3 separate regions of the Homo sapiens genome follow, and all the other regions are linked to region 1. The links come from fine-mapping of genetic effects on gene expression. A gene starts in region 1. Each other region holds a variant in brackets. All regions are shown on one strand. Distances are from middle to middle.

Region 1 (8,176 bases):
CCTAAAGTGCTGGAATTAGAGGGGTGAGCCACCGCACCCAGCTGCCAACTGGTGTTTCTAGGCAGCTGTGGGCTTTTTCTCCCCACAGGCATGCAGTTCTTGAAGATTTTTCCTATTGGTCATGAGTGCAGAAGAGCAGGAGGCTGAGCTGAACCTATGCCAGCCCAAGACCAGGCCAGACTCTGCTGTCCTTGTGAGGGAATAGGGGTTCCTGATTTTGTAGCTTTTCACAAAATGGAAGAGACAGAAAACAAGTTCCAGATCTTGAACCTTCCCCATGTGTTTGAAGGCAGTCAAGGGTTTCCTGATTTTACATTCAAGATACTTACACTCAGGGCCGGGCATGGTGGCTCACGCCTGTAATCCCAGCACTTTGGGAGGCCGAGGCAGGAGGATCACCTGAGCCCAGGAGTTTGATACCAGCCTGGCCAACATGGTGAAACCCCGTCTCTACTAAAAATACAAAAAAAAAAATTAGCCAGGCTGGTGGTGTACGCCTGTAGTCCCAGCTACTCAGGAGGCTGAGGCAGGAGAATCACTTGAGCTCTTATATATTGTGGAAATTAACCCCTTATCTGATAATATAGTTTGTATAAGCTTTTAAAAAATAAATTGTATATATTTAAGGTATACGACATGATGTTAATGACATACACACACATATTAAAATGGTTATTATAGCCAGGCACTGTGGCTCACACCTGTAATCCCAGCACTTTGGGAGGCCAAGGTGGGCGGATCACCTGAGGTCAGGTGTTCGAGACCAGCCTGGCCAACATGGTGAACTCCCATCTCTACTAAAAGTACAAAAATTAGCTAGGCGTGGTGTCAGGCACCTGTAATCCCAGCTGCTCAGGAGGCTGAGGCAGGAGAATCGCTTGAACCAGGGAGGTGGAGGTTGCAGTGAGCTGAGATGGCCCCATGGCACTCCTGTCTGGGCAGCAAAGCGAGACTCTGTCTCAAAAAATAAAAAATAAACACAAACGGCCAGGCACGGTGGCTCACACCTGTAATCCCAGCACTTTGGGAGGCCAAGGTGGGCGGATCACCTGATGTGAGGTGTTCGAGACCAGCCTGGCCAACATGGTGAAACCCCGTCTCCACTAAACATACAAAAATTAGCCGGGCGTGGTGGTGGGTGCCTGTAATCCCAGCTACTCTGGAGGCTGAGGCAGGAGAATTGCTTGAATCTGGGAGACGGAGGTTGCCGTGAGCCAAGATCACGTCACTGCTGACAGAGCAAGACTCCATCTGAAAAATAAATGAATAAAAAACTAGGCCGGGCACGGTGGCTCACGCCTGTAATCCCAGCACTTTGGGAGGCCGAGGAGGGCAGATAGTGAGGTCAGGAGATCGAGACCATCCTGGCTAACATAGTGAAACCCCATCTCTACTAAAAATACGAAAAATTAGCTGGGCGTGGTGGCGGGCACCTGTAGTCCCAGCTACTTGGGAGGCTGAGGCAGGAGAATGGCGTGAACCTGGGAGGCAGAGCTTGCAAAGTGAGCTGAGATCGCACCACTGCACTCCAGCCTGGGCAACAGAGCAAGACTCCGTCTCAAATAAATAAATAAATAAATAAACTAATAACTAAATGTTGTAACACAAAAGAGGATAAATGCTTAAGGTGATGGATATCCTGTTTACCCTGATGTGATTATTACAAATTGCATGTCTGTACCAAAATATCTCATGTACCCGATAAATATATATACCTACTATATACCGACAAAGTTAAAAATAGAAACTGGAAGACAAAAAATAAATAAAAATCAAATAAAGCTTCTCATTTTGTTGTCTGCCTTTGGTAGATTTCCAGCCCTGAAGTGGCTGTTTTTGAAAACTGTTTTCCCCCAGTTTTATTTTTGTTTATCCCTCTCTGGAGGGATTTGAGTCCTTCTTTATACCTCCACAACTCCAAGTCCCTCCTCTCATTATCGTTTTAGATGAGGAAAGTGAAGCTCAGAAGAGATGAATCAATTTGCCCTAGACCATGCAGCTAGGAAGCCTGGGAGCCAGCACTAAACTCAAGTGTTCTTTTTCTTTGTTAAGAATTTTATTCGCCAGGCACGGTGGCTCACACCTGTAATTCCAGCACTTTGGGAGGCCGAGGCAGGCTGATCACGAGGTCAGGCGATCGAGACCATCCTAGCTAACACGATGAAACCCCGTCTCTACTAAAAATACAAAAACAAAAATTTAGCCGATGTGGTGGTGTGCATTTGTAGTCCCAGCTACTTGGGAGGCTGAGGCAGGAGAATTGCTTGAACCCAGGAGGTGAAGGTTGCAGTGAGCCGAGATCGTGCCACTGCACTCCAGACTGGGCGACAGAGCGAGACTTCATCTCAAAAAAAAAAAAAAGAAGGCCGGGTGCGGTGGCTCACGCCTGTAATCCCAGCACTTTGGGAGGCCGAGGCAGGTGGATCACGAGGTCAGGAGTTCGAGACCAGCACGGCCAAGATGGTGAAACCCCATCTCTACTAAAAATACAAAAATTAGCCGGGTGTGGTGGTGGGCGCCTGTAATCCCAGCTGCTCGGGAGGCTGACGCAGAGACTCACTTGAACCCCGGAGGCAGAGGTTGCAGTGAGCCGAGATCGCACCACTGCACACCAGCCTGGGCGAAAGAACGAGGCTCCGTCTTAAAAAAAAAAAAAAGAATTTTATTGACATAATCACTGACATACATTTTTAGTTATTTACACCATACAATTTGACATATGTATATACCTGTGAAACCACCACAGTCAACCCGATAAGCACACATCCATCACTCCACTTCCTTGTGGCTTTGTTGGCCTCCAGGCTACACTGGTCTGCTTTCCCTCAATCTAGTTTGCATTTTCTAGAATTTTATGTAAATGGAATCATACAGTATGTACTCTTTTTGTCTGGCTTTTCCCACTCAATATTAATGAAATTCATCCACGTCGTAGCACATGTGAGTACTGTTTTTTTTTTTTTTTGGTGGGGGGGGGATAGGGTCTTGCTGTGTCACCCAGGCTGGAGTGCAATGGCATGATCTTGGCTCACTGCAACCTTAGTCTCCAGAGCTCAAGCGATTCTCCCACCTCAGCCTCCCGAGTAGCTGGGATCACAGGCACGTCAGCGCACTCAGCTAATTTTTGTATTTTTTGGTAGAGACAGTGTTTCACCATGTTGGCCAAGCTGGTTTCGAATTCCCGAACTCAAGCTGTCCTCCTGCCTCAGCCTCCCAAAGTTCTGGGATAACAGGCATGAACCACCGTGCCAGGCCACTTCATTCTATTTTATTGCTAAATAGCATTCCCTTGTACAGATATACAAAAGCTTATTTACCTGTTTACCTGCTGACGCCTTTTTGGGTTGTTCTAGGCACATACGCCTGCCAGGACACGTGCTTGTGTTAATGGATCCCGCCCTTTCTCCTAGGAGTGGGATAGCTGGATCATATGGAAGGTGCAAGTTTAATATTTTAATAAACTTTTAATTTAGAATAATTTGCTTTACAGAAAAGTTTCGAATATAGAACAGAGAGATCCATTTACCCCCACGCAGCTTCCTTTGTTAACCTTTTACATTCCTTTCATACATTTGTCAAAGCTAAGAAACTGACATTGGTACAATGCGATTAAGCTCCAGACTTTATTTGGCTCTCACCAGTTTTTCCGTGAATGTCTTCTTTCGGTTCCAGGATCCAGCCCAGACCACCACATTGCCCCGTTTCCCTATGCCCCCGGCCCAGTGCCCTCGGCTGCCTTAGTCTCTTCCTCTGTTTATGCTTAAAGCAGGGCAGGCCTTCCAACAACGCCGGCTGGAAAAAACCTCTTGGGCTAGGAAAAAACCTCTGGGCCGACACCGCCTCCAGTATGCTGGGTTCCAATGCTGCCTCCAGCTGTGTTGATTCCCTGATTATCTGTGTTCCCAGGTCATTCCCCAGCCCAGCCTAGCTGCTCCCGAGAAGACAGTGAAGGTGTGACCCCACATTTCCAGAGCAGCTCTGCTGTGCTCCATGCGAGGAAAGCCGGGGTTGCTGTGGCTTCTAGCGCGGAGAGCGGTCTCTGGCCTGGGCAGGTGACGGGTGTGCTAGGGCCCGTGGCCCGCGGGTGTGCAGGTGCTGCCTGGTGGCGCGGGCTTGGGGACGTGGCTTGGCACGTGGTGGGAGGTGGAACCTGGAGGGCGTGGCCGAGCGCCTGGCTGGAAGGAAAATGGGGGGCACAGCCTGGCGTTGGGGGGTGGAGGGTGTCTGTGGCAGGGGGCGTGGCCTGGCGCGTGGAGGGAGGCGTGGTCACCTGTTGAGGGTTGGGGGCGGGCTGATGGGAGGCGTGGGTTCAGCTTGGTGCGTGACAGTTGTGGGGGCATGGCGCGGCCTAGCGCGTGGCCCTCGGGGGCTGAGGGCGTGACCTTGCACGTGGCCGTTGGTGGGGCGTGACGGGGGCGTGGCCTGGCGTGTGGCCATGGGTGCTGGGCGTGGCCTGGCACGTGGCCTGGCACGTGGCCGTTGGCGCTGCGTGACGGGGGCGTGGCCTGGTGCGTGGCAATTGGCAGGACGTGATAGGGCGTGGCCTGGCGCGTGGCCATGGGGGGCTGGGCGTGGCCTGGCACATGGCCGCTGGCGGCGCGTGACGGGGGCGTGGCCTGGCGGTCTAGGGCTGGGGGCGCGCAGACTCCGCTGCGGCGGCGTGGCTGTGGGTCCCGGATTAGCGGCGGCATGGGACGGTTGAGTTGGCAGGTGGCGGCCGCGGCGGCTGTGGGCCTGGCTCTGACTCTGGAGGCGCTGCCTTGGGTGCTGCGCTGGCTGCGGTCCAGGCGGCGGCGGCCGCGGCGCGAGGCGCTGTTCTTCCCGTCTCAGGTGACCTGTACCGAGGCCCTGCTGCGGGCTCCGGGCGCGGAGCTGGCCGAGCTCCCCGAGGGCTGCCCGTGCGGCCTGCCCCACGGCGAGAGCGCGCTAAGCCGCCTGCTGCGTGCCCTGCTGGCCGCCCGCGCCAGCCTGGATCTCTGCCTGTTCGCCTTCTCCAGCCCGCAGCTGGGCCGCGCCGTGCAGTTGCTGCACCAGCGTGGGGTGCGAGTGCGGGTCGTCACCGACTGCGACTACATGGCCCTCAACGGCTCGCAAATCGGTCTGCTGCGCAAGGCAGGTAGGCCCGGCGGGGTCCAAGCGGAGAAGGCCGGCTTGGCCCACGCGGGGTCCTAGGCGCAAAGGTGGACACTTAGGGGAGGGGGTCTGGGGACGGGCTGAGGCCTCATTTACTTTCCTCGTGGCCTTGTGGGGTCGGGGTGGTGTAACGCGGAGAAAGCAGAGCCCCCACAGAAGGTCTAGCCGGCTGCGTGGGCATAAGCGAGCCGGACCCTCGGTGCCTCCGCGGTGGGGGCGGTTCTCTCAGTGAACTGTCCCGGCATGCTGGAAGCAGGTGGGCCTGCGTGTGCCGGGTTAGAGGCGGAGCAGATTCCCCTAGCAACTCCTCGGGCGCCGCCGGCGGAGTTTTCGTGACTGCTGCAGCCCGGGCCCGCCCTCCTACGCTGCCGGAGATCCCCGGACGGCCTCTGGTAACCTGGATCCTGGTGGCAGGGGAGCTGGACGCCAGGGTTGTGCTTGGACTTCCAGACTGAAGGGCTCTGGGGAGAGGCGGCCACCTGCTGCCCAGTGAATCTCAGGCCACTGGGCTCTGGGAGACCTGAACATGTTCTAGAAAGCAGCGCCAGGACATTCGGTTGTTTTCCCAGCTGCAAAAGGAGGGGAACACATATTTCTGGCGGGGGCGCCTCTCTCATGGGGTGGGGACAGAAGGGACCAGGAAATGTGAATAATTGGGATCCTTGTCCCACCTGAGGATTCTCAGTCCATCCTGGCCCAGTTCGGCGGCCCAGCCTGCTGTTGCCTTTTGTGTATCTGCACTCACAGACTCTTGGGCCTGTCTCTGTCTCCATCACTCAGGCACCCAGAAAGTCACGCCTGCACGTGCAACGGTTGGATCTGATAATACTGGTGGTCGCAGTGACCGAGAGATGTGTGGAGCCCTGGGAATTGTCCAGGCTGGGCAGTGGTCACCGCCGCGCTGTTCCTTCTGCACAGCCATAGCCTCTTGTTGACTTGGGCCTCAGAGCAGCCTCTCCAGAGTCAGCCAGGGTCCCTCCCTGCTCTGGGTGGTGTGGGGCATGTTGCACGCCATGTGGGAGCAGAGTGGGGCACGTGGTTTTCATATTGAGGATGTCTCCTTCTCTTTGGGGCAGCCACAAGAGCTGTCCTCCCATGTGTTGGTCATTTTAACGGGAGGTTTGGGGACCTCCAGGCATGCACAGTACAGTTCTGTTTGAGTTGCTTTTACAGTCGTAGAAGCTGAGGTTGGTGAAGACCCTTCAAGGGCCCCTAGACCAAGGTCCCATCGGATCCCCTCTGGGATGGCCTCCCAGCATCCTCGCTGACTTCGAGGCTGTCCAGTGGCATTCACTGTTCAAGGAATGTCCCCTCTGTGCCAGTATTTGTGAGGAGCTGGAACATCCTAGGGCACAAGGGCACAAGGCCAGGTTGCCACGGAGATGCCAACTAAGTCATGAATATTTCATTTAGGGCACTGAGAAGGGCCAAGAAAACTTCATAAAGCAGGGTAAGGAGGCAGTGGTGTGGGAGGAAGTGGCGTGGGCCAGGTCAGCTGCCCAGGGGCAGTGACACTCAGGGCAGGGACCTTGCTGACACCAGTGGACTGTTCGGAGGGAGAGGCATGCGGCTGGAAGGGGCAGCAGCACAGTCGCCCTGGGTCACAGACTGACTTCCTTTTGAGGAAGGGCAGGAAGTCCCCTGTGGCCAGAGGTGGCAGGCCGCGGGGAGGGGACGGGGAGGTGGGCAGTGGATCCCAGCGGAGGCAGGAGGTGTGGGCGATGGTGGGGTTTTACATTGCCCACCGTGTGGAGGAATGTGTTTGGAGGGCTGTGCCGACAGGACGTGCCAGAGGAGTGGCCAGAGTGTGAGAAGAAGGGCTGGCTCCTCGAGGTAAGGAAGCCACCACGTCTTCATCCTGCCAGGCCCAATTTAGGGGGCACAATTAAATATGAGTTCCATGCACAGGGAGTGATTTTTAGGGTATGTTCCCAGTACTCCATGGGACACACTTCCCTTCAAAGATTACTCTTTATCTGAAATTCCATTTAACTTGGATGTTCTGTATTTTGATTCGGAAAATCTGGCAACTGTGTTCCATGGCAGCCTGTTTAAAACTTCTTTTAAGCCCCATTTCTGACGGCCTCATTCCTTAAGCAGGTCGTGAGTGAGGCAGTGTTATTCCAGGGGAGACAGACACAGGCCCTTCCCAAGAGGAGTTTGAAAGCTGGGAAGAGCAGAGGCCGGGATGCCTGGTTCTTTGGTGAAGGAAGCAGGGGGGTGCGGAAGAGGAGAATTCATTTGTGCGTTGTTAGTTAGGGCCCTTCCTGCCTTGGTGGCCGAGGTTGTGCCAGCAAATTGGGCTCTGCTCTCAGACGCCGGGGCCTCTCTGGGCAGAGTGGGCACGCTCTCAGCCTTAGCTGTGGAAGAGTCAGAACCTGAAGGCTCACACGCTGTCTTTGCCCTGGTCACCTCTGACTGGGTTAGTGACAGCCTTGGCAGCAAGCAGTAACCCCGAAGGGACATACTGGCTGGCATAGACTCGGAGGTGTGGCCTCACCCAGACCACGGCCTGCCCAGTCCCCCATAGCCTGTGTGTGACGCTCTGGCCCTGTGTGTGATGTCCCCTCTGTGGTTCTCAGCGTCCCTCCTGGGAGCTTAGCCGCCACCACTCTGTGAAAGCATGGCGGGCTTTCCTGGCCCACCAAACTGGAAACATATAGTAAAGCCAGTAGCCCCCAGGAACAGTCCACACTGGGGGCGGGACTCCTGCATGGAATGAAATCACCTTGTCCTTTCTGCAGGGATCCAGGTCCGGCACGATCAAGACCCAGGCTACATGCATCACAAGTTTGCCATCGTGGACAAGAGGGTGCTCATCACTGGCTCGCTCAACTGGACCACGCAAGCCATCCAGAACAACAGGGAGAATGTTCTCATCACGGAGGACGACGAGTACGTGCGGCTTTTTCTGGAAGAATTTGAGCGCATCTGGGAACAGTTTAACCCTACAAAGTATACCTTTTTCCCACCAAAGAAAAGTCACGGAAGCTGTGCCCCACCTGTCTCCAGAGCTGGAGGGAGATTGCTTTCATGGCACAGA
Region 2 (8,176 bases), 200 kb after region 1:
CCTTCACAGCACTTCCCCTGCTGCTTTTTCAGTGTAATCTTACAGCTATTCTGTCAAGACACCATGTTAAACACTAGTGGAAAAGTCACTGTGCAGAATTACCATATAATCTAGTAATTCCGCTTTTGGGTATATACCAAAAAATACCCCAAAAATAATTGAGATCAGGGTCTCCAACAGATGTTTGTTCACCCATGTTTATAGCAGCATTCTTTTTTTTTTGAGACGGAGTCTCACTCTGTTGCCTAGGCTGGAGCGCAGTGGCGTGATCTCAGCTCACTATAGCAGCATTCTTTACAACAACGAAAAGGTGGAAGCCACCCAAATGACCATCGATAAACAAAAATGTGGTCTGTGCGTACAATGAAATATTATTCAGTCTTACAAAGGAAGGAAATTCTGGCACATGCTACAATATGGAAGAACGTGAGGGCGTAATATTCCGTGAAAAGACAAACTCTATATGATTCCACTTATACGAGCTAAGGGAAGGGGAATGGGGAGTTACTGTTTACTGTTCATTGGAGACAGTTTCAATTTGAGGAAGATGAAAAAGTTCTTTTTTTTTTTTTTTAAGAGACGGAGTCTCGCTCTGTCGCCCAGGCTAGAGTGCAGTGGCCCTATCTCGGCTCACTGCAAGCTCCGCCTCCTGGGTTCACGCCATTCTCCTGCCTCAGCGTCTGAGTAGCTGGGACTACAGGCGCCCGCCACCACGCCCGCCTAATTTTTTGTATTTTTAGCAGAGACGGGGTTTCACCGTGTTAGCCAGGATGGCCTCGATCTCCTGACCTTGTGATCTGCCCACCTTGGCCTCCCAAAGCATTGAGATTACAGGCGTGAGCCACCGCACCCGGCGAAAAAGTTCTTGAGATGGACGATGGTAATGGTTGCACAACAATGAGACTGTGCTTAGTGCCACTGAACTGTGCATTTCACGATGGTCAAGATGGTAAGTTTTATGTGGACAAAAAGAACACGCTATGTGTGGAGGGGTGCAGTGGCTGGAACCCCAGCACTTTGGGAGGCTGAGACAGGCGGATTACTTGAGGTCAGGAGTTCGAGAGCAGTCTGGCCAATGTGGTGAAACCCCGTCTCTACTAAAAATACAAAAATTAGCCAGGCGTGGTGGCGCACGCCTGTAATACCAGCTACTTGGGAGGCTGAGGTGGGAGAATTGCTTCAACCTGGGAGGTGGAGGTTGCAGTGAGCCGAGATTGTGCCATTGCAGTCCAGCCTGGGCGAAGAGTGAGACTCCGCCTCAGGAAAAAAAAAAAAAAAAAAAAAGAACATGCTATGTTTGTATTTAGGATCTAGGTTTAGCTACGTCTAACAACAGTGGCTTTAACAAGACAGAGGTTCATTTCTCCAGCACACTGTCTAGGGGTGGCAGGGCAGTTCAGGGCTGCGGTGGCAACTCTGCTCCATGCAGTTATTCAGGGATCCACCCTTCTCTCTCCCATCCCTAGGGTGTTTCTCTTGTCCATGTAGCTCAAGACAGTGCACCATCATGTCCACATCCTAAACAGCAGGGTTAAGAAAGTATGGAAAAGGGCTTGCCCTCCCCTTAATAATTTTTTTTTTTTTTTTAAGAGACTGGGTCTCACTCTGTCACCCAGGCTGCAGTACAGTGGCACCATCATAGCTCACTGCAGCCTAGCCTGGGCTCTAGCAATCCTCCCACCTCAGCTTTCTGAGTAGCTGGGACTATAGCCACATGCCACCATGTCCAGCTGAATTTTTTTTTGGTATTTTTTGTAGAAATGGGGTCTCGTTATGTTGCCCAGGCAGGCCTTGAACTCCTGGCCTCAAGTGAGCCTCCCACCTCGGCCTCCCATAGCTCTGGGATTACAGGCATGAGCCACTGTGCACAGCCAGCTCCCACCTCTCTTGAAGCACTGTCATTTGGGGCCTCTGTTCTAGAAGGGGGTGCAGTTGCTGCTTGGTGTGTTGTCCATCCCCTCCACAGGATGGCAGCTGCATTTAATCTCCCGTGGCCACCATGGAGGTGCTCTTCTCAGGTCGGCCTTCAAGAGAGAAGCCTCTGCAAGAAGTGCAGTCAGCTGACAGCCTCCAGCTACTTGGGGATCTTCCGCCACATTCAAATCATCCTGCCCAACCTGGGACCCCAGTACTGGCCATCTTTGCTCCAGAGACCCCCTGGGGCCGGGTGAGGCTCCCCCGCCCAGCTCTCCAGTGGCCCCTCTCCTTCACAAGCATTGTGCTTGGTGCGCTCCATGCTCTCCCTGACTGCTCTGCCCCTCGCCCCTTTCTCCTTTACAGCTCCTTCTCCTAACACAGTTCTTGTATCTCTAACTCCAACCTGTTGTCTACTTCCCAGGGGAGCTGAACTGACACCTTTGCCCCAGGCCATATCCCCAGCACACAGACAAGTGCCTAGCACATAGTAGGCGCTCAACAGAATTTCCAAGTGAGCACAGAAAACACAGTGGGCAGTCAATACATGTGTGTTGAACTCAGCAAATTGCACAGCAGCTGGGAAACAGCCGTCGCCGGCTCCTCTGAGCGTGGTGCTCCCGCAGCCCGTGTCAGCTGCGGTGCTTTGCCAATGCAAACAGGAGTGGAGAGTTAGACCCAGGCCCACTCCAGCTGCTGGGCCCCTTGCTCAACACAGCCCCTTCCTGCCACCTGCAGGGTGGGGTCTTCCTGAGCCCGCAGAGGGCACAGAAGGAAATACCTGCTCCCGGCCATGCAGGCCTCCCTGGCATGGGCACCCTGAGAGTCCTGGTCCCGGGAGCCAGGAATAACAAAGAGGCTGCCAGGGCCGGGCCCCTGGGACCTGAGGGCTGAGGGCAGAGCATGCCTCCCTGGTTTGCTGGGCAGGAGGCTGATTGGGCTAAATGGACTTTGTTGATGGTGACCCTTTGTTCCTCCATGGCGGCTCCGTCTGAGGAGAAGTTTTGGAGGCTGTTCATTCTCCTGCTTCCCCTGCTGCCACCCCAGAGACAAGGAGAGCAGCCTCCCAGTGGCCTGTTGGTTTGTAAAAGAGTCAGGTGTGGGAGGTTGCATCACGTGCTTCTCTGGACTCGTGGTCTGCAAGGAGGTGTGACAAGTGTGGCTGTAGGTCGATGAGCTGTGTGCGGCTTGGTAACGGGCAGTGGATGAGCCAGGGGGAGCAGCAGGTGGCCCAGCCCCAGGGATGAACATGGGGGAACTGGGTCCGATGTAGGCAGGAAGGAGACATCAGCAGCAGCAGCCCAGGGGCGTGGTGGAGGGGTGCGGGGGGGCCAGAGACAAGCCAGAGATGCCTGGATGATCCATTTTGCAGAAATAACAATCTCGAATCCAGGGCTGGGCCTGGCTGTGGCTTGGCCTGGCCAAGGGTGGTGAGCAGCAGGTGTGCTGATTGTAGTTAAGAAGCCATCGGTGTCAGACCAGAGTCCCCGGGCTCTGCACCTGAGGCTGCTGCGAGAGGAAAGCGATAGGGGCTCAGGCATGCTGAGGAGGTAGGTGGGCACGTGAAGGTGGGCCTCCAGGAAGGGGACATGAATACAGCAGGTCTTGGAGCTTTCTCCTTCAGGGGCAGGGGCAGGAGGACGGCCACCTGGCTTCACCACGAAGGGCCCGAGAGCATGGCATGGAGGGAGAGGCAGATCTAGAGAGAACACCGGCCAGTCTGCGGAGGGAGGTGGAGGAATGGGTTGAAGAGGGAAGAATTCCTGACACAAACTCTGAAATGACAAAGGAAAAGAATGACAAATCCGATTACACAAACATGAGCAACTTCCAAAGACCAATCACAAAAAACAAAACAATCACAAAGTCCCCACCAACATGGCTGAAAATAAAACAATTAGCTGAGAAGAAATATTTGTCACCTACAGACCATGGCAGACAGAAGATTTTATTTTAAAGCACCCTACAAATCACTAAGAAAAAAGCCCCAAAGAAATAGCAATCTGGAAAAGGACACAAAAAGGGAACGTGCAGAAGAAGTGCCAGCAGCTGCCAAACCCACGGTCCACAAAATCCTGGATCAAACAGGCAGGAGACAGCATGACAAGGTGCCACTCTCTGCCCATCGGGTCGGCACAGATTTAAAAACAAGGACCTGGTATTGCCAAGGATGTGGGGAAAGAGCCCTGTGGGTGAGGGTGTCAATTGGACAATGGCTGTCAACTTCTAGAATAATCATGTGTGCTTCCCTTTGATCCAAGAATCCCGCTGGGGGAAATTATTCCTGTAGAAATGTTTGCTCAGGTGTGCGAAGACACCTGCGTAAGACTTTTCATCTCAGCATTGTGTGTGATGCTGATGCCACAGCGTGGTGCCTAGACACCTCCTGGAGAGGACCCAGAAGGCCCGGCCACAGGTGGGGGCCGTGTTGCCATGGTCCCTGCCCAGAGGATGCCTGGCTGGTGCGGGGCAAGAGGGAGGTGGTCCTAGAGGCAGCCTTGCCTTGATCTACCCACAGGAGCGCACTGGACAGGGGTCCTGTGAGTGTGGGATCAGGGTCCCCCAAGCCCCATCTGCCCTCTGGTGCCCAGTGGCATTGAGCAGTTGTCTTAGCCACTCTGACCTCCACATCCTCCTCTGTGAAACGGGGTGTGACAGGACTACCTCTTGGGCTCCTGAGATCCTGGCATGCGTAGTGCTGTGTCAGGCGCAGTTCTAGGCCCTCTACCTTCACTGGGCCTAGGCAGCCTCCTACCAAAGGAGGATGAGAAGACACAGAGAGGCTGAGCAATTGCCTGAGGTCACACAGCTGCCCAGTGGCCGCAGAGGACACAGCTGGTGTCCCATCCATCAGTCACCCACCCTCCCCATGCAGGACTCGCCTCTTCACGTCTAAGCCTGGGACGCCTGAGCAGGATCCTTGGGCTGCTTCTCCCAGCTGCAAGGACGGGCAAGTTCCACCGCTGGAGGCCTGGAGAGTCCCTGTCCCAGGAGAGGGTCTCAGCCAACAGTGGCTGTGGGGGTGGCGGACAACTA[C/T]TCCAGCCCCTTGCTCCTCAGCGGGGCAACCTCTGGGGCCTGCTCCACGCTGTCTCCCAGGGCTCCCCACAGCAGGGAGCCTGGTGCTTCCCTGGTAACTGCCTTGATAACACATACTTTACTGGCTTCTTCCCTTCCCTGCCTCTCGTGCCCTCCCCTGGGGCTTCCTGCATCTCCCCAGCCAAGCACTTGCTCTGGAATCCTTGTTCTGGGGTCTGATTCTGAGCCCTGCCCGAGACAGTGGCAAAGCTGGAGTTGGGCCAGACAGTCGGGCTCCAGAACCTACCTTAAAAAAGTTTTTTTTTTTTCCCCATCTACTCGGGAGGCTGAGGCAGGAGAATGGCGTGAACCTGGGAGGCGGAGCTTGCAGTGAGCCGAGATCGCGCCACTGTACTCCAGCCTGGGCAACAGAGCGAGAATCTGTCTCAAACAAAAAATAATTTTTTTTTTTTTTTTAAATAAAGAGACAACAGGGTCTTGCTTGGCTCTGTCATTCAGGCTGGGGTGCAGGGGGCAGGCAGCCTCGAACTCCTGGGCTCAAGCCATCCTCCTGCCTCAGCCTCTCCAAGCGCTGGGATTGCAGGTGTGACCCACTGCAGAATCTGTTCAGTGGGGCGGCTGGACTGGTTTCGACCCACTGGACTGGTTTGCAAAACCCCCCACCCGGCACAGTCTCTGGATATTTTCCTAGACTGTGACAAGCGGCCGCTGCCAGGGGAGAGTGAGGGACCCTTTACCCTCTGTGCCCCTCTGTCCCTGGGTCAGAGCCCTGACATTTATTGCACCCACCCACCCCAGGGACAAAGTCCTCTGCACAGGGCGGGCAGCCAGCCCCTCGACCAAGGCCTCAGGAAGGTAAAGAAGCCGGGTCCACCCGTGCTCAACACCTGACTTCAGTCCAGGGTAGGCGGCCCAGGGCTCCTCTCCGCCCAAACTGGCTCCTCCCAGCGCCACCCAGAACGAGGGGTGCCGAGGGGCCCAGCACCTAGGTCAGCGGCGCCACCTGCTGGTGACCATTGGGAGGCGCCGGCGCCTGGTTCTCTGCAACATTCCGGCTCCAGAACCTACTTAAAAATTTTTTTCAAATAAAGAGACAACAGGATTTCTCTTCGCTCTGTCATTCAGGCTGGGGTGCAGGGGGTAGGCAGCCTCGAACTCCCGGGCTCAAGCCATCCTCCTGTCTCAGCCTCCCCAAGTGCTGGGATTGCAGGCGTGACCCACTGCAGATCTGCATTCTTAACCATACTCTACAAAAGCCCTTCGCTGAGAGGATGTGGTAGGATAGCCCTCCCTACAGTGCCCAGCACTGGGAGCACCTTCATACACGAAGCTGCTACTGCTGCTCCTGTCTCCCAAGACCTTATGTGGTCCCAGGCAGCCTGGAGGGCATCCCTCCCTCGGCGAAGACCAAGAGTTCCAAAAGGACACAGACACAAGAGGCCTGGGTCTCTGAGGTCCTCCAAGGGCCATCCTTCCAGTCCCAACCCCTGCTTGTCTCACAATATTTCTCAGGAGTGGTCCTTTAGTCTCTACTTGCACACTTCCAGGGACAGGGAACTCATCAGCTCTCAAAACCACTTGAGCCAACATCTGTCTCTCACTGGCTTGGCTCTGCCATCTGGGAGTCAGTGAAAATCCTGCTGGCTTGGGAGAGCAGGAGGCCCAGGTGCTGCAATGCTTGAGCTGTCGCTGTCAGTCCCTTGGCCCTTCCTGGGCTGCTGCCCTCCAGGTGGGCTCACGCACAGCAACTTCACTTCTTCCTCCTCCGTCTTTTTTGCAGAGAAAAGATTTGAACATCGAATATTTTTAGGAAGAAGAGTTTCTGTTTGAAAAACCTGCCTTCCATGGCTGCACAGCAAATCTGAGGAATCTCTTACTGGCCCTGGGTTTCACATTTACATTACAAGCAGAAGGTTCACATTGCTGTTGCCAGAGAGTGGGCTTGTTCCACGATGGGGGTCACCCACGCTTGCAGCAGATGCTTAAGATCTGAGCACTGGACATACAGGCCCTGGAAAGACAGAGAGACTTCCTGCATGGAGCTTACTGTCTGGGGGAGCAGACCACCTCACCATCCCACAGGGAAACAGACCGTCACAGCACGACAATAGCCTGGCAGGAGGGGTGCACAGAACCCTGGCAGCTCATCCTGGGGAAGGTGCTCTAGTCTGGGAAAAGGCTTCTCAGAGAAAGGGGTCTGTTTTATTTTTACTTTTTCATCATAGGAAGAGTGCACAGTTTAAGTGTTCAGCTTGATGAAGTTTTACCCATGGGTGCCTCAGGCTCAGCCCCCAGACCAAACTGGAGAAGACCAAGTTCGTGCCCAGCCCCTAGAGGGCTCCTTTGTCCCCTCCCATCCAACACTCCCCCCACCCCCCGAGAAGTAACCATTCTTCTCTACCCTTGTGCCATAGATTAATTCTGCTTCTTTTTGAGCTTCCTAGTAATGGAGGTTTGTGAATGGTGCTCTTTTGAGTCCGGCTTCTTCACTCAACAATGACATCTGTGAGATCCTCCCATATTGTTGTATGTGGTCGTCGGTGATTCTTTTTCATTGCTGTATAGTATTTCATTGTATGAATATACTGTCATTTGTTGATGTTTTCTGTTTATGGATATTTGGGCTGTGCTGGACAGTGATAGTTTTTGGCTGAGTGGAAGTTACCTTGCTATGTGGAGGCAGAGAGGATAGGGAGGAACACTTGATAAGGCAGGAACAACATACACAAAGACCTTTGGCAGGAGGGAGCCTGCCTGGGGCCCTGAAGGCTGGTGTGGCTGAGGGGCATCCCTTCCTGTACCCTGCTTCTAGGCCGCTGTGTTCTGAGTGCCTGCTGCTTTGGCCTGATATGTGGCCCTCCACACTCATTTCCACCTCCTCCTCCTGTGCCTTCCTGACCAGCAGGGACTGGGAAGCTGAAGGCTACATTTCCAGGTTCCCTTGCAATGGCTTCCAGGGTTAGGATCCACTAGTAACACGCCCAGGTGAGATCAAGGAGGCGGGGGTGGGGGACATCTTTTGGCAGCTCTGGGCTGTGTTCTGCCACCCAGCAGGGTCACAGGCACGTGGAAGTGTCTAAAGCAATGTTCCAGTGTCTGGTCTTGAGCTGCCCAGTGGCCCTGATCCCAGGTCCCTGCACCCCACGAAGTCAGTGGTGCTTCAGTGGCATCCCTGATTCCTACCTCCTGGGCAGCTTGGTTCTGCTGGGCTCTGGGAGCCATGGGG
Region 3 (8,176 bases), 56 kb after region 1:
TTGCCACACCCAAGCAGCCTAACCCACAGCACAAGAAACACATTCGAGATGTAATCTACATCACATGACCTGAGAAATGGCACCAGAGGTGCTCAGATGCGTGGAGGCTCTGAAGGTGGGGACAGCAGAGTTCTGGCCATCAAAGGACCAGCCCCCACACTGGAATCTTCTCTGCTTTTTTTGTTTTGTTTTGTTTTAGATATGTCTGAGTCTTCTGATTCTCCATCTTTTAAAATGAGAACTAGGTCTTTAACCTTCAGGGCAGGAGGAAAAAAGCCCAAAGCAAAATCTGAGACACATGAACCACAGAATGCAAAAACAGGAGAGGGTTTTTCAAATTGGCTGCACAGAAATCAAACAGACGTAGGAGTGAGGTGAAAAGAAGGCCAAGACAAAGAAGCACTGGGTGGCCTATGGATGCCGCACATGGGGCCACCCTTAGAGCAGCAGAGCCCAAGGCCTGAGAGCACCGACTGCGGGGCTCAGGCTGGTCTGGCCAAGTGCCTGCTGACACAGATGGAAGATTCTCCACCAAAGCCCAGTTCTAATGACCAGCACACATGCTACCTGCAAGATGAAACGCTTGGGCTTACAAGAGAAAAGAACCAGAAATGTTTGTTCTGATTACTTGGGACAGGAACCTGAGCAACAGAAGGACACAGGAAGGAAGGAGCAGCAGACTGGGATGCACTGAGCTCAGGTCTCAGACTTCAGACCTGAGTCTGACACTGCCCTGGCGGGAGTGGCACCCACAAGAGGCACAAAGGGCTCCCTGGTGTCTTCACCATCCTACCTGGTCACATCCGGGGCAGTGGTCGGGTGCACGTGCTTCATGATGGTCTGGATCCAGTTCCGCCGAATCCCAGATGTCATGGCCGACAGGGTAAACTCGCCCTCCTTTGTCTACAGAGAAAAGATGAGGCACCATCAGTGACTGTCCCCTAGGGTGCCTGCTGCCCTCCATCTCCAAAGAAGCTCCCTGCACTGGGTAAAGTCCCACAGGGAGAAAGGCTGTGACTGGGTGACCCTTCTAGGAGTGCCACATGTGCCCACTACTGGGACATGAGGGAGCTGGAGAGCAGGAGACGTCAAAGCTGTGGGAGGGACGTGTATTTGTGGCAATGGTAAATCCGGTATCTTCTCTCAGTAACAAGCTCACAGTTACTGAGCACCCACTACGCACCAGCAGCCTGTCCACTCAGACAGAGGAGGATGCTGCACCCCTCTTTAAGGAGTTCCCAGCCTCGGGGGAAGGGCAGAATCAGCATGTGCTGAGCAGTGGTGGAGGTGGGGAATCCGGAAGGGCGTGTGTGTTGGGCGTGGGGAGTGGCACCTGCAGTCTGCACTCACACAGGCACATGGCATGATGGGCCCAGGGAGTGGTTAAGAACAAGGGGTATCAGGGTCTTGTTGGTGGCACTGAGAAAAGGCAGGGAGACCTGCTGGGTGGTTACTGCAGCTGTCCAAGTGATGAGAATTAAGGTGATGGCAGGGGACAGGGCAGCTCAGAAGTAACAAAAGGGGTATGAACAGCGTCTGGCTGGTTGGGTTGGGGAGCACCTAGACAAGCCCTAGACTCCTGCTTGGATGAGGTGGAGTCTAGGGCTTGTCCTCGGTGCTTGTGCAAGGTAGCAGGGGAGGAGCCTGTTTTGGGCGAGGAACGGGGCAGCAGGTAGGACAAAGCAGCAAAGAGCACATGGCTCTGGGACATGACCACTGCGCCCCTGAGCAGACCTGCCTGGGTACCAGGCAGGGGAGGGCCAGTGGCCTGCATGGAGCTGGAGGCCTGCTTCTGCACCTACAGGCACCTGCCCAACAGAAGCGAGGGCTGCAGCCTTGAACCGAGAGCTGCTCACAAGCAGACTCAGCAGCCAGGTCAGTAGGGAAGCTGACGGCAGGATGCAATCATGAGGATGGTTTTCGGATGGGTGCTAGTGGCCTGGCCAGAAGCCAAAACAGGAGATCACGCACCGGCCTGACGTGCCACAAAGCACAGCTGGGAGGGACCTGACCTGCCCCTCCACATGCCCGATCAAGACACCACCACTGCCCAGCTCGGTCCTCCTTCATCAGTTCTCATATCCATGTGAGCTGAGTTGGGGGGGTACCACCTTCTCCTGGGTCCATCCTTCTCCACCCCCAGGTGTGGGCGTTGCTGGAGTTTGGCCTCAGCACTCCACATACAGCTGTTTTCTCCAGCTGAATTTTCTTTCCCAGCGGCTGCCTAATGTTCTCTGAGAGCCCATCATGCCTCAAATGGATCACAGCCGGAATTCCAGGGGATCCCCCTGCTTCTGTGAAGTCAGCTCTTCTGCTGGCTTCTCAGTGGGCGGGGCCTTCTTGCCAGGTCCTGGCCCTGCCCTCACCTCTTCCTCCCAGGTGCTGCTCCTTCCTTTCTTGCCCAGCTTTACCGTGCCAGCCTGGTTCCTTTCTAATGGACCTGCATGTCCCGCCAGACATGTATCATGAACGCACAACTGACTGGCATCTTCTAACACCCTTCAGTGCTCTCCACAAAGGCTGGACCAGCGCCAACCTGACTCTCCACCCAGCACTCTAGCCCCAGACTGGCTCTGTGCTCTCTGTGCCACCAGGTCTGGAGTCCAGTCTGGGACATGCTTTCACACTCATCCCTCCTGCTGAGCCTTGAGGGATCCTTCTCCAGGAAGCCTCCCCCAGGAAGCCTTCTCCACACTGGAAGCATCTCCTCATTCCTTAGAACTCTCAGTAGTTGGGGATCACCGAAAGTCATCAGGATAAGCCCTACCAGGGTGAAGTGAGGAGGGGTTGATCAGTGGGTGAGAGTGGCTGATGCCCTCATTTGTCACTAGGAGAGCGGGGTGAGTTCTCAGACTTCAGGTGTGCCCTGCCTGGAGAAAGCTGCTCATGAAGATGGGAGGTGGACGGCAGGAGAGGAGGCTCACCGGGCACTATGCCCGCCTACCCCTCCCACAGCGGATGAGGACAGAGGAGCCTTGAAACTTGGGCAGTGCAGGCCACTAAGAGCAGACAACTCACACCCGGCCCTGGTGCCAGGCTGTCAGTGTAGCCTCCAACTGTGACTCAGCTCCTCTCGCAGATGCCTGCACGCAGGAAGCCACAGCCAGCAGCCCAGTGGGCTGGCGGCCAGGATTTTCTTAGTAAATGAACACACTGGCCTTTGGGTCTATACTTCAGTCTCCTCTAAGTTGGGCCAAACTGAGTGAGCCCCAAATACTGGATCAACTCTCAACACAGCAATAAAATTGAGTTTCTGGGCCCCAAAATTTGAAGGTATGACCCTGCTACAGGTGAGCCCACCAGAGTCTAGCCTTGTGTGAGAACCAAGTCCCAGGGCCAGGGCCCAGCCCCATGGGGGCAGCTCTCTACTCATCACACTCTCCACCCATCTTAAAGCCCTTGCGAGTGACGAACTAACTTTACCCAAAGAGAGGCCTGGCCTCTGTCCTAGCTCCTGGGAGGTAACTTCCAAACCTTGGAATTTCCTGAATGACTAGAGTCTTTGTTACTCATGGTGGTACCCTGGGACCCCACCTAACACTTCATGCTGACAAGACAACTCAGGGTAGAG[G/C]CTGGCCTGGCCAGAAGCAGGAAATTAGAGGAAACCCATTAAATCAGAGGGTTGGGGTTTGGGCCATGTGAAAGTAGCCAACCATGGCGGGAAGGGCTTTAGGTGGAGTTCAACTATGAGGACAACAACTCCATCAACCACAGCAGCTACAGAGCCTCCTAAAACTCAACACCGGGGCTCAGGTGGGCTTCCGGGCAATGCTCTGCGCACTGCCCCACATCAGGGCTAAGAGGACACCGTGTCCCCAAGGATGCAGAAACTTTTGGCATCTGTGACTCCCCCAGTCCCAGATTCTACTCCACATGGCTCTCCCTTGGCTGGTTCTGACTTACATACTTTCTCTATAATAAAACTCATTGTAAAGACAGTACTTTCCTGAATCCTGTGAGTCATTCTAGTGAATTTTTGAAACTGAAGGTGGTTTTGGAAACCTCCGGACTCACAACTGGTGTCAGAAGTGGGGGCAGGACTGGGCACAGTGATTCATGCCTATAATCCCAGCACTTTGGGAAGCCAAGGCAAGTGGATCGCTGGAGCCCAGGGGTTCAAAACCCTCCTGGGCAACATGGTGAAACCCTGTCTCTCTAAATAATGATAATAATAATAATAATAATAATAATAATAATAAGCTGGGCATGGTGGCATGCACCTGTAGTCCCAGTTACTCTGGAGGCTGAGGTAGAAGGATCGTTAGAGTCTAGGATTTCGAGCCTGCAGTGAGCCATGATTGTGCCACTACACTCAAGCCTGGACAGAGAGTGAGACCCTGTCTTGGGGGAAAAAAAAAGAAATGGAGGCAGATGTGGCAGTCAGGAGGACTGTGCTCTTAACCTGGAGTCTGGCTGACTGCAGGCAGTCCTTGATCCACACAGTTTTGAAGAAACAGCCAATAAGAACCATTTTGTCCTACCAATAAGATTTTTTTTTTTTTTTTTTTTTTGAGAACAGTGCAATGCCTTGCTCATCTGAGTACCTCACAAGATTTTGGGAAAAAATAGCCTTGTAAGTAAATGAATGAACAAACACATGAATAAGTGAGTAAAAAGCGGATGTAAATAATTGACTAACACTTTCATTCTTATTCCCCATACCCCACATCCTTCCAATTGCCCCAACTCCAGCATTACAAAAAACAAAAGAAAAAAGGAACCTTCAGAAACAAAAAAGCTTTAAGCAGTCTTCAGAAAAAAGATACTAACGTCTAATGTACTGTTCACATCACAAATTGGGGAATAGGGTCAGGTGCCACAGGACAGAGGTGTCAAGGGTAGTGGGAAAGACTAAGTGCTGACCATACACGCTGCATCAGGCCTGTCCAGAAGTGCCCCCAGCCCAGACATTAGGCACTCTGACATGCATCCCTGCCTGTCAAGCCTGTGGCCCCACTTCCATCCCTGGACTCACATGTATCTGGAAGCCATAGTTTCTCTGAACTGGATACTCTGTGACATCGTAACATGCGGACAAGTCAATTTCTCCATCCAAGTCGGCTGCCTGCCGAGGGAAGTGAGAATGTCTTGAGATTTTTAGGAAGTAGAACCAATGCCTAGATGAGCAAATTTCCGTAAGTGATTTTCTGCACTGACTTTACTTTTAATAGTATACACACTGACAAGTGAGGACACCGTCTATCCTACTACTGCATGACCCAGGCCCCTCACTGGGTGCAATCACACCACCATCTGTCCCTGTATCCAGCCAAAGATAGTCCACGCCAGTGGTCCTCAAACATGCTGCTGTTGAAATCCCTTCACACTCTTAAAAACTGGTGGCCCTAGAAGAGCTTCTGTTAGGTGGATTTCATCTATTGATGGTATTTACTATGTTAGAAATTAAAATGTAAATATTTTAAAAATTTTAATTTAAAAATATTTAAATATATTTTAAAATATATTATAAAATATATTTTATACATTTAAATATATATGAAAATATATATTAATATAAATGTAAAATTTAAATATATTTGTTCATTTGAGAATAAAATAAATTCATTTTAAAATAAAAATCTGATTTAACAATCAGTGATAAGAGTCACATTGCTTTGAATTTTTGCAAATCTCTCTAACATCTGTCTTCAGAAAGGACAGCTGGATTCTTGTTTCTGCATTCCATCTGTTCAATACGGAAGTTTTTTTTTTTTTTGAGATGGGGTCTTGCTCTGTCACTCAGGCTGAAGTGCAGTGACACGATTTCAGCTCACTGCAACCTCTGCCTCCCGGGTTCAAGTGATTCTCTTGCCTCAGTCTCCCGAGTAGCTGGGACTACAGATGACCACCACCAAGCCCAGCTAATTTTTGTATTTTTAGTAGAGACAGGGTTTCACCATGTTGGCTAGGCTGGTCTCAAACTCCTGACCTCAGGTGATCCGCCTGCCTTGGCCTCCAAAGTGCTGGGATTACAGGCATGAGCCACCGCCCCCGGACAACAAAGGAAGTATTTTTAATAGCTTTTTCAGGTAGTTGTGGCTGTTCTTTGACAAGCAGTAGGCTCTTAAAGGTTAACTGCAATGTGGTATCTGAAATCATGCCCATGAACTCTCTGTACTGTGTTACATTAAAACCCAGGCATGCTTTTGTAACATTAGGTACTGGTCACATGGAAAATATTGTTATGCACAGCTTCCAATTGTCTACACATTTCATTATGTAATATTAAAATATCGCCTTTGCTAATACCACCACCTATTTCATCAGGAGAGTGTAAGTAAAGGGAAGTTCATGATGGTGAATACAAATTTTCCCAAGTTCTAATTTTTGCTTGGAAGCTCAAATTATATCACTGGCAACAAATTCTGTCAGTTGTTTTCCTTAGAGGAATGAGCCAACTTGGTTCATTTTCATGAAAATATATGCCAAACACCCAAAATTAATGACCACAGTTTTGCCTATCAGTTGTTTTTCAAGTAAACGTGGTGCTCCAAAAGAAGCTGCTAGTTCAGCTGGCAACTCAATCACACAAGTCCTTTCCATGAGAAAGCCTGCACACTCTAGTATGCAGCCAGGCGATGCTTACTTCCCATTTCAAATCACAGAATATTAAAAAGATGGGCATTTAAAGATTGAGGCTTCATAAAATTAGTAACTTCTGCTGCTCTTTCAAGGACCTTATTTATTTTAAAACGATTAATTATTTAAAATGTATGGCAGTGAAGAATCCAGTGACCACTGGTCCAGCCTGTTGCTACAGATGGGGCTGTGCCAAGTGCTAGTGGCTTTACCTCCCATTGCTTTTGCACCATCAGTGCAGATGGTCACACGCAAAAAAAAGTCAATGACATCTTAATATTACAAATTATTTTAACCACCACTGCTCTCCTGAAAGGGCCTCAGGGACCCCCAGAGGTCTACAGACCACACTCGGAAGTGCTCTTCTATGCACATGCAACCAAACACTTACATAGGCTCCTTACTTCCCCAACGCTGGACACCACCAGAGGCCCACCGCCCACACTCTCCTACCCCTACTTCTTATCACTACCACCTTTTCTCCTTCAGTCTGTAAAGACTGGCTCAGAGTATTTAATACATATCCCGGCCCTTAATGATGGGTATTTAGGCTCTTTCCAATCATCTGGCTGTTACAAACGTGTGGGAATGACTAACCTGAAACAGACGTTTTTCCACATGTGGGAGTTATCTGAGGGATTCCTGGAGTGAAACTACTGGGGAAAAGGCAAAGGAGACTTGCCAAACTGTTTAGAAGAGGTTATTTTATTTGTAGGTGAAGAAAAAAAGAACCCCTTCTATTTGGTCCTTGACCACAGAATCAGGACTGTCCAGGGGCCCAAAAAAGCTCATCTATCCTATCCTGTCCTTGTCCAGAAGGCAGGGCACAAGATGTAGTTCAATTCTTCCAACTCCATTTACCATGAAATCTCTTTGTGGAAAAAACAAAATTGTTCATCCTGAGTTTTCAAATTTCAGTGTTTTTCAAAGAACAGAGAAAAGAAAAGCTGCCCAAACCCACTGCACTGGGCACTTAATTCAAGGCCTTGACGAAGCCCAGCATCACAGCCAGGAAAATGATCACAAGGACAAAGGCTGGTCTTGTGCTCACCTTCCCACCAGGTCGGGACTGGGAAACCCAAGAGGGCAACATGGACATACCTTCGGCAAGGTAACACCACCGAAGGGCGCTGTCCTCAGAAGTGGGGACATTAGCCCAGGGGGAAGCAGATCTACTAGCCCCAGATGCCGCCTGGACCCCTCCAGCTGTCTCCACAGCAGAGGCAAAGCCCAGACACTCACCTCCTCAGCCACTGAATCCCTGTAGTATCTCAGGCTTTGATCGGCGAGGACAAACCAGTGTTTCTTCCACTAAAGGGGAAGAAAAGAAAAATGACTCGACTACCAACTCCTATACAGCATGCCTGCCACGCCACGGCGGTGCGCAGCCAGAGCCTGTGGGGCCCTCCCAGAGCACAGGGAAAGCAGGGGACAGGCTGGCCCCTCCCTTGACAGCATACAGAGGACTCTGCTCGGACTGCAGGCAGCCATGCGCTCACACCCTCAGGACGCTCACTAAGCTGTGACCCTCCAGTGAAGAGGCAGCACAGACAGCTGAGCAGGCCTTGGCTGTGGGCTCTATGACCAATGGTGTGGC

Which allele goes with the higher level. Alleles are on the strand shown, and positions count from the first base shown. SD is a standard deviation of normalised expression in the study named.
For the expression in lung of the gene that starts at base 4,643 in region 1, allele C in region 2 goes with a lower level than allele T (small effect, 0.19 SD a copy in GTEx).
With allele G in place of C in region 3, the expression in Th1 cells of the gene that starts at base 4,643 in region 1 is higher (moderate effect, 0.68 SD a copy in Schmiedel 2018).

Evidence for each region.
Region 2: its variant is fine-mapped to the expression of PLD6 in lung (GTEx, PIP above 0.99).
Region 3: its variant is fine-mapped to the expression of PLD6 in Th1 cells (Schmiedel 2018, PIP 0.95). The same link has a PIP of 0.9 or more in Th1/17 cells.

The regions. Positions count from the first base shown.
Region 1 is chr17:17,202,800-17,210,975 of GRCh38, reverse strand. It overlaps PLD6 (phospholipase D family member 6), which reads left to right and starts at 4,643. Exons shown (of 2, transcript NM_178836.4): 1 at 4,643-5,116; 2 at 7,878-8,176. The coding sequence starts at 4,690. RefSeq lists silencers at 4,335-4,384, 4,425-4,674, 4,795-4,844, 4,865-4,984 and enhancers at 3,610-4,449, 5,505-5,624.
Region 2 is chr17:16,999,739-17,007,914 of GRCh38, reverse strand. No RefSeq gene overlaps it. Among named protein-coding and RNA genes, the nearest start is that of LINC02090, 15 kb to the right of the region's middle. RefSeq lists an enhancer at 2,653-3,181. The variant C/T (reference allele first, on the strand shown) is at 4,951.
Region 3 is chr17:17,147,033-17,155,208 of GRCh38, reverse strand. MPRIP (myosin phosphatase Rho interacting protein) reads right to left here. Exons shown (of 24, transcript NM_001364716.4): 11 at 7,822-7,890; 12 at 4,976-5,065; 13 at 794-903. Among named protein-coding and RNA genes, the nearest start is that of PLD6, 55 kb to the left of the region's middle. RefSeq lists an enhancer at 4,789-4,868. The variant G/C (reference allele first, on the strand shown) is at 3,572.